3 separate regions of the Homo sapiens genome follow, and regions 1 and 3 are each linked to region 2. Evidence: fine-mapped expression QTL. A gene starts in region 2. Each other region holds a variant in brackets. All regions are shown on one strand. Distances are from middle to middle.

Evidence for each region.
Region 1: its variant is fine-mapped to the expression of UBE2QL1 in sun-exposed skin (GTEx, PIP above 0.99).
Region 3: its variant is fine-mapped to the expression of UBE2QL1 in sun-exposed skin (GTEx, PIP above 0.99).

The regions. Positions count from the first base shown.
Region 1 is chr5:6,404,116-6,406,872 of GRCh38, forward strand. No RefSeq gene overlaps it. Among named protein-coding and RNA genes, the nearest start is that of MED10, 27 kb to the left of the region's middle. The variant A/G (reference allele first, on the strand shown) is at 1,450.
Region 2 is chr5:6,447,622-6,450,378 of GRCh38, forward strand. UBE2QL1 (ubiquitin conjugating enzyme E2 QL1) reads left to right here and starts at 1,238. Exons shown (of 2, transcript NM_001145161.3): 1 at 1,238-1,626. The coding sequence starts at 1,273. It overlaps LOC105374639 (a long non-coding RNA gene), which reads left to right and starts at 1,716. Exons shown (of 2, transcript XR_007058679.1): 1 at 1,716-2,757. RefSeq lists a silencer at 1,201-1,270.
Region 3 is chr5:6,517,013-6,519,769 of GRCh38, forward strand. No RefSeq gene overlaps it. Among named protein-coding and RNA genes, the nearest start is that of LINC01018, 64 kb to the right of the region's middle. The variant C/T (reference allele first, on the strand shown) is at 1,493.

The DNA of each region.
Region 1 (2,757 bases), 44 kb before region 2:
GAATTGTAATGTGTTAGGAATTCTAAGAGGCCTTAGAGGTTAGCCACTCTGATGTCTTCATTTTACAGGTGAAGAACAAAATGCGTAAGTAACTCGAACAAATTTGCACAGTGAATAAATGACAGAGAACAGAACAGCCATCACTGGCTGGTTGACTGGGGCTTTCCCATCTGGGACTTTTCTACTCACTGTGCCACGTGACCCACAGGACACTGTTCCCCAGCCAGGCACATGGACCTCAGATCATGAGCATCCAGATGTGTGGTTAAATACCAGCTGACACATTCCCCAAGACTGTTCATTCCAGATACACACAGACCATTTTTCTTTTAAAAAATTGAATCACATATGGCTATATCTCTGTGTGACTACCGTGCTTATAAGGAAGACATAAGGCTGTATCCTAATTAATGATTTTTAAAATTATTCTGGTAATGATAAACTCTTCCAAGCATTTCCTGGGATCTTAAAGATGGGAATTTTCTCAAACCAGCTGCTGTGAGAAATTATTTTCATACCATTTCCTCAGAAATCTACTTTGGATTCCAAATCTTTATATCTGCTTAATACTTTAAAGAATGTATTTCTATTCCCTTATTAACTTTCCTTTATTTGACTTGCAGTGAAATTCAGTGAAGAAACAAAAGATGATGTGTCTAGAGTTTACCTGGGAAGCTTACCTCTTCTTTGGAGTGTTTTAATGGGACTATGTAGTATACATTTACATGGTGCATTTGTTCCACTAACAACTTTAAATTTTATTAATTTTAACTAGGCATGGTGGCCTCAGTAGTCCCAGCTACTCAGGAGGGAGACAGGAGGATTCTATGAGCTCAAGAGTCCGTGGCTGCAGTGAGCTATGATCACACCACTGCACTGCAGCCTGGGCAACGGAGCAAGACCCCTTCTCAAAAATAAAAAATAAAAAACTTATCAATTTTGAAATCAATGCACATCAGGATACAGAATCTCAATGAGAAATATTTGTTGGGTTTCTTTTTTTGAAATGGAGCCTCAATCTGTCGCCCAGACTGGAGTGTGCAGTGGTGTGATCTTGGCTCACTGCCACCTCCCTCCACCTCCTGGGTTCAAGTGATTCTCCTGCCTCAGCCTCCCGAGTAGCTGGGATTACAGGAGCCCCCGACCACACCTGGCTAATTTTGTATTTTTAGTAGAGATGAGGCTTCACCATGTTGGCCAGGCTGATCTCGAACTCCTGACCTCAAGTGATCCACCTACCTTGGCCTCCCAAAGTGCTGAGATTACAGGCGTGAACCACCAGGCCCAGCCTGAGAAATATTTGTTGACCAAATATTTCTCAATTCCACTTGGCACACACAAATAAAGTTCCCTTTTCAACCATCTGGCGCCTGCCATTCTCTCTGTTTTAATACAGGTGGTTTTGTAGCAGGACTGTACTAGTTGAATGTGATAACCGATCTTTTGGCT[A/G]TTCCATCTGATTATTTCTGCCCAGCATTCTTAGCAAGTAACTTAATATTGGCAAAGTATTGGAAGAAAATTTCAAAATATAAGAAAAGGAGCCTTGAGAATAACAGGATCTATGGGGGGCGGGGATGTCAAATCCACGGATGTTACTTCCGAAGCCAGCAAGGCCTGCATCTCCCTGAGCAAACAGTGGGCATGCCCAGAACTGCCATCAGCCCCAACTCAAGTGCATGGTTCTCCCCTCGTTAGTGGCAGCCTTGGTGGGCCACTTTCCTCCTCTGGGCTTCTGGTCACTCACTTGCAAAATGGGGCTCTGTGACCAATGACCTGTAGGGTTTGTCCCAGTGCCAGAAGCCCATGTTTCTATGGCACAAGTGAAATAAAATTTTTCCATGGAATGTAGTTCAAAAAAAAGCCATTTGAAATGTCCCTTCTGGCTTTAGCAACAGTTTGTGTTTTTTGTTTGTTTGTTGTTGTTGTTGTTTGTTTGTTTGTTTTTTAACTGAAATCTGCACAGCTCTTTACCAATGTGCTGAATGCATTTCAGATTGTACAAAAGTTGAAAATGCTACATATCTCAGTGAGAAGCACATTAAAAATCTTTTAAAAGTGTTCATGTCAACTTCCATCTTTCATTTTCAGGGTCATATTTCATTGTGAATTGTGATGTTGACATTGAATTAGAAATACTGTTAAGTGCAAATATGCATGTACAGTTACATAATACAGGTGAATAATCTTGTTTAATTAAGTTTCATAAAATCTTGAACATGATCCATGGGCATTTGCATCAGCACTTTGAAAATTGATGGCATGACTTATTGTTGTGGCAGAAGCACTGGTGAGCAGGGATCTCTGTAATGAGCCTGATTCCTCCTTGACAGCTCCAATTTCATAGCATGGTCCATCTCAGGAGCCCTCAGAGTTGACCATGGGACAACTGGCTGCAGAAAGACACAGCTTGATCGCGTATTTTTGCTTGCACAGGCCATACCCTGTTCCTGCGGGGGGTGAGGTGCCCTAGAGGTCAAATAGCTGTGCCCCCCCACCCCCCCCACTCCTCAGCAAGGATACTCTCACAGAGGCATACCAGCTTCCGGGCTCCTGCCACCACACAATTCCAGTGGCTCCAGGAATGCCCATTCCACGCCAAAGGCTTCTCTGGAAAAACACAGGTTAAACCAAAGCCAGCTGTCATTTGGGTGGTGACCCGATTCAACATCACAACAAACAGGGCAGATCCAGGCAGGAGCTGCTGATGAGAAGAACAAAGACCTCAGGGAGCTGCGAGCCTTGTGCCAGCCTCCACGC
Region 2 (2,757 bases):
ACACCGCACACACGCACACACTACACACATTCCCACACACTCATACACCACACACACCCTCACACACACACCACAAACACACCACACACACACCACATCAGTCACACACCACACACACACAAACACCACACACACGCACACACTACACACACACCACACACTCATACACCACGCTCACACACCCCCACACACACCACACATATCATGCATTCACACACCACACACAAGCACACACATGCACACACACTACACACACACCACACACTCATACACCACACACACGACACATACCACACACACCACACATTCACACACTACACACTCATACACTATGCTCACATACACCATGCAAACACCACACACACCACACACCACACTCAGACACCACACATTCACACAAAGCACACACACCACGCTCACACACAACACACCACACACACCACACACTACACACAATTACACACACTACTCACACACACCACACACACACCACACACACACACCACACACATCACCCTCACACCACACACAAAACACCCTCACACACTCACACATCACTCTCACACACACCATACACACATTACATACACAGCACACACACACCACACCCTCACACCACATCCCAGTCACACACCACACACTCACACACTAACACCACATACACGCACACACATATCACACACTCATACACCACGCTCACACACCCCACACACACACCACACATATCACACATTCACACATCACACAAGCACACACATGCACACACACCACACACTCATACACCATACTCACACCCCACACACACCACACACACATCACACATTCACACACGACACACTCATACACTATGCTCACACACACCATGCAAACACCACACACTACACACACTACACTCACACACACACCACACCACACTCACACCATACATACATACACACCACACACCACACTCACACATCACATGCACACACACCACGCTCGCACACACACACCACACAGTGGCAGCAGCAGCAGCACCCCGGGGGCGCGGGCGACGCCAGCCCGGGACCCGGCAAGGGAAAGGGCAAGCGCGCGGCGGAGCTGGCCCCGCGCGACAAGGCGCCGGCGGCTGCGGCGGCGGCGGCGGCGGCTGCGGCGGGGGCCGGGGGCCCCCGCGAGAGGGCAGCGGGCGCCAGGGCGGGGCCGGGCCCGGCGGTGGCGGCGGCGGCGGGCGGCAGCCTGGTCCCCGCGGCGCGCCAGCAACACTGCACGCAGGTGCGCAGCCGGCGGCTCATGAAGGAGCTGCAGGACATCGCGCGCCTTAGCGACCGCTTCATCTCCGTGGAGCTGGTGGACGAGAGCCTGTTCGACTGGAACGTGAAGCTGCACCAGGTGGACAAGGACTCGGTGCTGTGGCAGGACATGAAGGAGACCAACACCGAGTTCATCCTGCTCAACCTCACCTTCCCCGACAACTTCCCCTTCTCGCCGCCCTTCATGCGGGTGCTCAGCCCGCGCCTGGAGAACGGCTACGTGCTGGACGGCGGCGCCATCTGCATGGAGCTGCTCACGCCGCGCGGCTGGTCCAGCGCCTACACCGTGGAGGCCGTCATGCGCCAGTTCGCAGCCAGCCTGGTCAAGGGCCAGGTAAGGCGAGCGCGCCGGGGCTGGGGGCGCGGGGCCGAGATCGGGTCTGCAGCGCCGCCGGGCGCCCGGGCCCCGTGGTGAGGGCCAGCGCCGGCCCCTCCGGCCATCTCGCTCCCTGCTCTGACTACACCAGCGCCCCACGGGGATGCTCCGAGCGCCTCCACCTCTTTTCCCTGAGCGTTTTCTTCCTGCCCCTGCTTTCCGTCCCGTCTCTCCCGTCCCCGTCTGGTCTCAGTCTCTGCCCGTCTCTCTGGTATCGGTCTCTGCCGTCTCTCTGGTCTCTCTAGCTTGCTCATTCTCTCCTCATCCCTTCATAGTTCTCTTCCATCCCTCTTCCTTAGCCTCCCTCTCCCATACCCTCCTCTCCCTTTCCTCCTGGACTCTTTCTCCTCTCACCCCTTTCTCTGTCCCCCCATCTATTCCCACCCCCGTTCCTTTTTCATTTTTTCCTTCTCCACCCTCCCTGGCTCCCCTACTCTTCTTTCCCCTCCGTCTCACCTTTTCTCGCCCCTCTCTTGTCTGCTCCTCAATCTCCTGTCCCTATAATCTCTATGAAGGTGAGAACTTTTTCTGGACCTCAGGATTTAAGTGTCCAACCTAGCTGATCTCCCACCTCCCCAACCCCCCCCACACACACACACACAAGGCTCCTCCGCAGGGGACTCGGGTGGGAGATCTGCAGGTGGGTGCCGTGGGGAGGGACAGCTGCCTGCTTGTAAATCCGCCCCCTGCCTTCTTCTGGGCTGCCTCTCCTGGAAAGGTGGAAATTTTGCTCTTGGGAACTCACTCTAGAGAGGCGGCGGTGTGGTTTGGGCATTCCCTTAAGAGACAAGACCAGACCCCCCCCCCCCACGGCAATGCCTGTTTTCCCCTCAGAGCACCCCCTTCCTTCCCCGAACCCCTTAGGACCACCACCTCTGGGGTAGACGTTCCAGGTCTTGGTCTCTTTCAGACCTGCTTCTTTTTCTTCATCCCCTTACCTCACTGCCCCAAGCAGTTAAATCCTTTATCAGGGCTAAAGATTTTAACGAAATACGAAACGAAGGGCCAAACAGTTCTCCTGAGCCTTCTCACCTATTGCATCAGATGGCAGCTTTACGCAAAGAAACCCCAAAGTACTTGAGAGCAGGG
Region 3 (2,757 bases), 69 kb after region 2:
TTCCTTCGCTTTAATTCCTGGTCCTTGAAGATAAGAGTGTTGTTTTTCCTTCTAGTTCAGGGAGTTTGTCTTTTACATGGGAATTGCATCTTTTGCTTTTAAGAAACAGCATGAAGGTCAAATGATTCTTTTTTGTACCTGCTGTTTTTCAAGTGTTGTTACTTATATAGTCAGTATGCCAGAATAGCTGAGGAGTTTTGGAAAATAGATTTTAGCTTGAGGAGGAGGCGTGGGAAGGTGGGCAAGGCTCCCAAGGGGAGACAGCCCAGCTGGCTTTGAGACAGTGTTTTGCAGGAAGGCAGTCCTTGAGTCCTGGGTGCAGCTTGAAGCTTTGAGTTACCCACTGAGATGCCCATCCTATCTGGACTATCTGATTTTAAGTCAGAGTCTTTTCGTATAGTTCTAAGAAAAACAAACCGTTTGAATGACCTCCATAATGTTTGAACGTGTCACCAGCTAGAGTCCCAGAAGAAGGGAACTATCTTAGCCTGCCTTTGAACTTTAAGAGCCCATACTTTAAACCAATGTATCGAGGCAAGTCAGCACTAAGGCCAAGCACATAAAAGCAAAATATCAGGCGTGCAAAATGAAACCAAAGAATAAGGTATGTGCTCACTGGGAAGGACGACAAAGCCTTCTTTAACAGGAGGGAAAGTCCCTCATAAATCAGGAGAAGAAAAGGCCCTTGTATCAGTCCATTTTTATGCTGCTGAAAAAGACATACCTTAGACTGGGCGATTTACAAACGAAAGAGGTTTAATTGGACTCACAGTTCCACATGGCTGGGGAGGCCTCACAATCATGGCAGAAGGGAAGGAGGAGCAAATCGCATCTACATACATGGCAGAAGGCAAAAAAAAAGAAAGAAAGAGAGTTTGTGCAGGGGAACTCCTCTTTTTAAAACCATCAGATCTCATGAGACTTATTCACTATCAACAGAACAGCATGGGAAAGACTTGTTCCCATGATTCAATTGCCTCTCACCAGGTCCCTCCCACAACACGTGGGAATTCAAGATGAGATTTGGGTGGGGACACAGCCAAACCATATCACCCCTCTTAATAGGAGACCTCAGCAGCAGGAGGGGAAAAGACCCCTCACAAACAAAACCCAAATAAAACCAAAGAACTCAACTGAAACAAAAATGAGAGCTCAACTCAAGAAAGAGTCATGGTACCGGGGGAGGAAGCAACCCCTGGAAGCCAGGGGCAGGGACACTCAAGGAGCCCCAGAGTGGGCACCCCATGCAATCCTTCCAGGGGCGTTGATCTCTCCAAGGTGAGTCAGCTTCAAACCCCACTTCTGACAACAGGTTATGTCAACATAAAAAAAAAGAGAGCTGAATCTCTAAATAAGAAGGTTTAATTTGGAATAATATACAAGAAGTAGGATTACAATCTGGGACATCCATACAGACCAGGGTGACCTCTGGTGGGTACAGAGAACAAAGGAAAAGTTAGAGTTGATAGGGGAAAGAGGAGTTGCCCCATGT[C/T]GTTTTGAAAGAAAGTTCACTGGGGCTGGCAGTGACTTGCAAGAGCTGGTGCGTGCCAACGGGCAAATGTGAGCGGTTGCTGGGTGTGACTTGCAATCTTGGAGCTAGGGTTAGGTCCTTGTCATTTTGTATGGGGCTTGTGTGACAATGTGCCAGGCGAGTGTTCTTGTGTGAGCAGGGGGCTGTCCTGGTGCTGCTGGCTGCCCTGGTGCTGCTGGCTGCCCTCGTGTGACTCCTTAGTGAGCTCCAGTTTGGGAAAATTTCTTGTGAGAGCTCTCATTATCAGGCAAATGGTACGTGAGAACCCCCGCTGCTTCCCTGGCACTATTTGTCAGAGGTTGACACAAGTGACTCCATTTTGAATCTGACAACTTTCACAGTGTGCACTCCTTGTGTATTAAACTGGAATTTATGGCTCTCTATGTGTGGTGAAGATCTGTGCACAGGTGCACCCAACTGCCTAGGCACCACCTGGCATGGAGGAACCTCCCATCTCTCACTGCCTCCCCCCGTTTCACCTGTTCTCTGCCCACCAGAGTGGACTTCATTCTGTTCCTGGCCTGGGGCAAGGCTAGATCAGCCCCACACAGGCCACCATGACCCTTCCAGGTTGGGTTGATCCTGCCCATTCTATGCTTCTCCACACCTGCCCCTCCTCCTGGCACCCCGACTGGGTCATAGCCCTCACCACCCTGTTGTAAAGTCCAGTTTCCTGGTTGTAGGGTGCTCAATAAGCATCTGTTACAAGAACAAGTGGAGGAGAGTGAACAAATCCCCGGGGATTCTGATGAGGCCTCAGAGAGGGCTGGACCTGTGGAAGCCCAGAAAAAAAAAAGTCCTGAATGATTGAATCATGTCTCTGCAGGGTCACATTTCCTATCTCAGGCAGGTTGCCAAATTTAACAATTAAAAATACAGACTGCCCAGTCAAAGCTGAATTTCAGATAAACAGCGAGTGATTTTTTAGTGTAAGTATGTCCCAAATGTGGTATGGGACATTCTTACACTAAAATGTTGATTGTTTTTATCTGAAATTCAAACTTAACTGCACATCCTATGTCTATTTCAACTGTACACTAAAGCATCCTGTACCCCAGGGCATCCTGTACCCCAGGGCATCCTGTACGCTAGAGCATTCTATACCCCAGAACATCCTCTACCCGGAGCATCGTGTACCCCAGAGTATCCTGTACCCCGGGGCATCCTGTACCCTGGAGCATCCTGTACCCAAGGCATCCTGTATCCCAGAACATCCTGTACCCCGG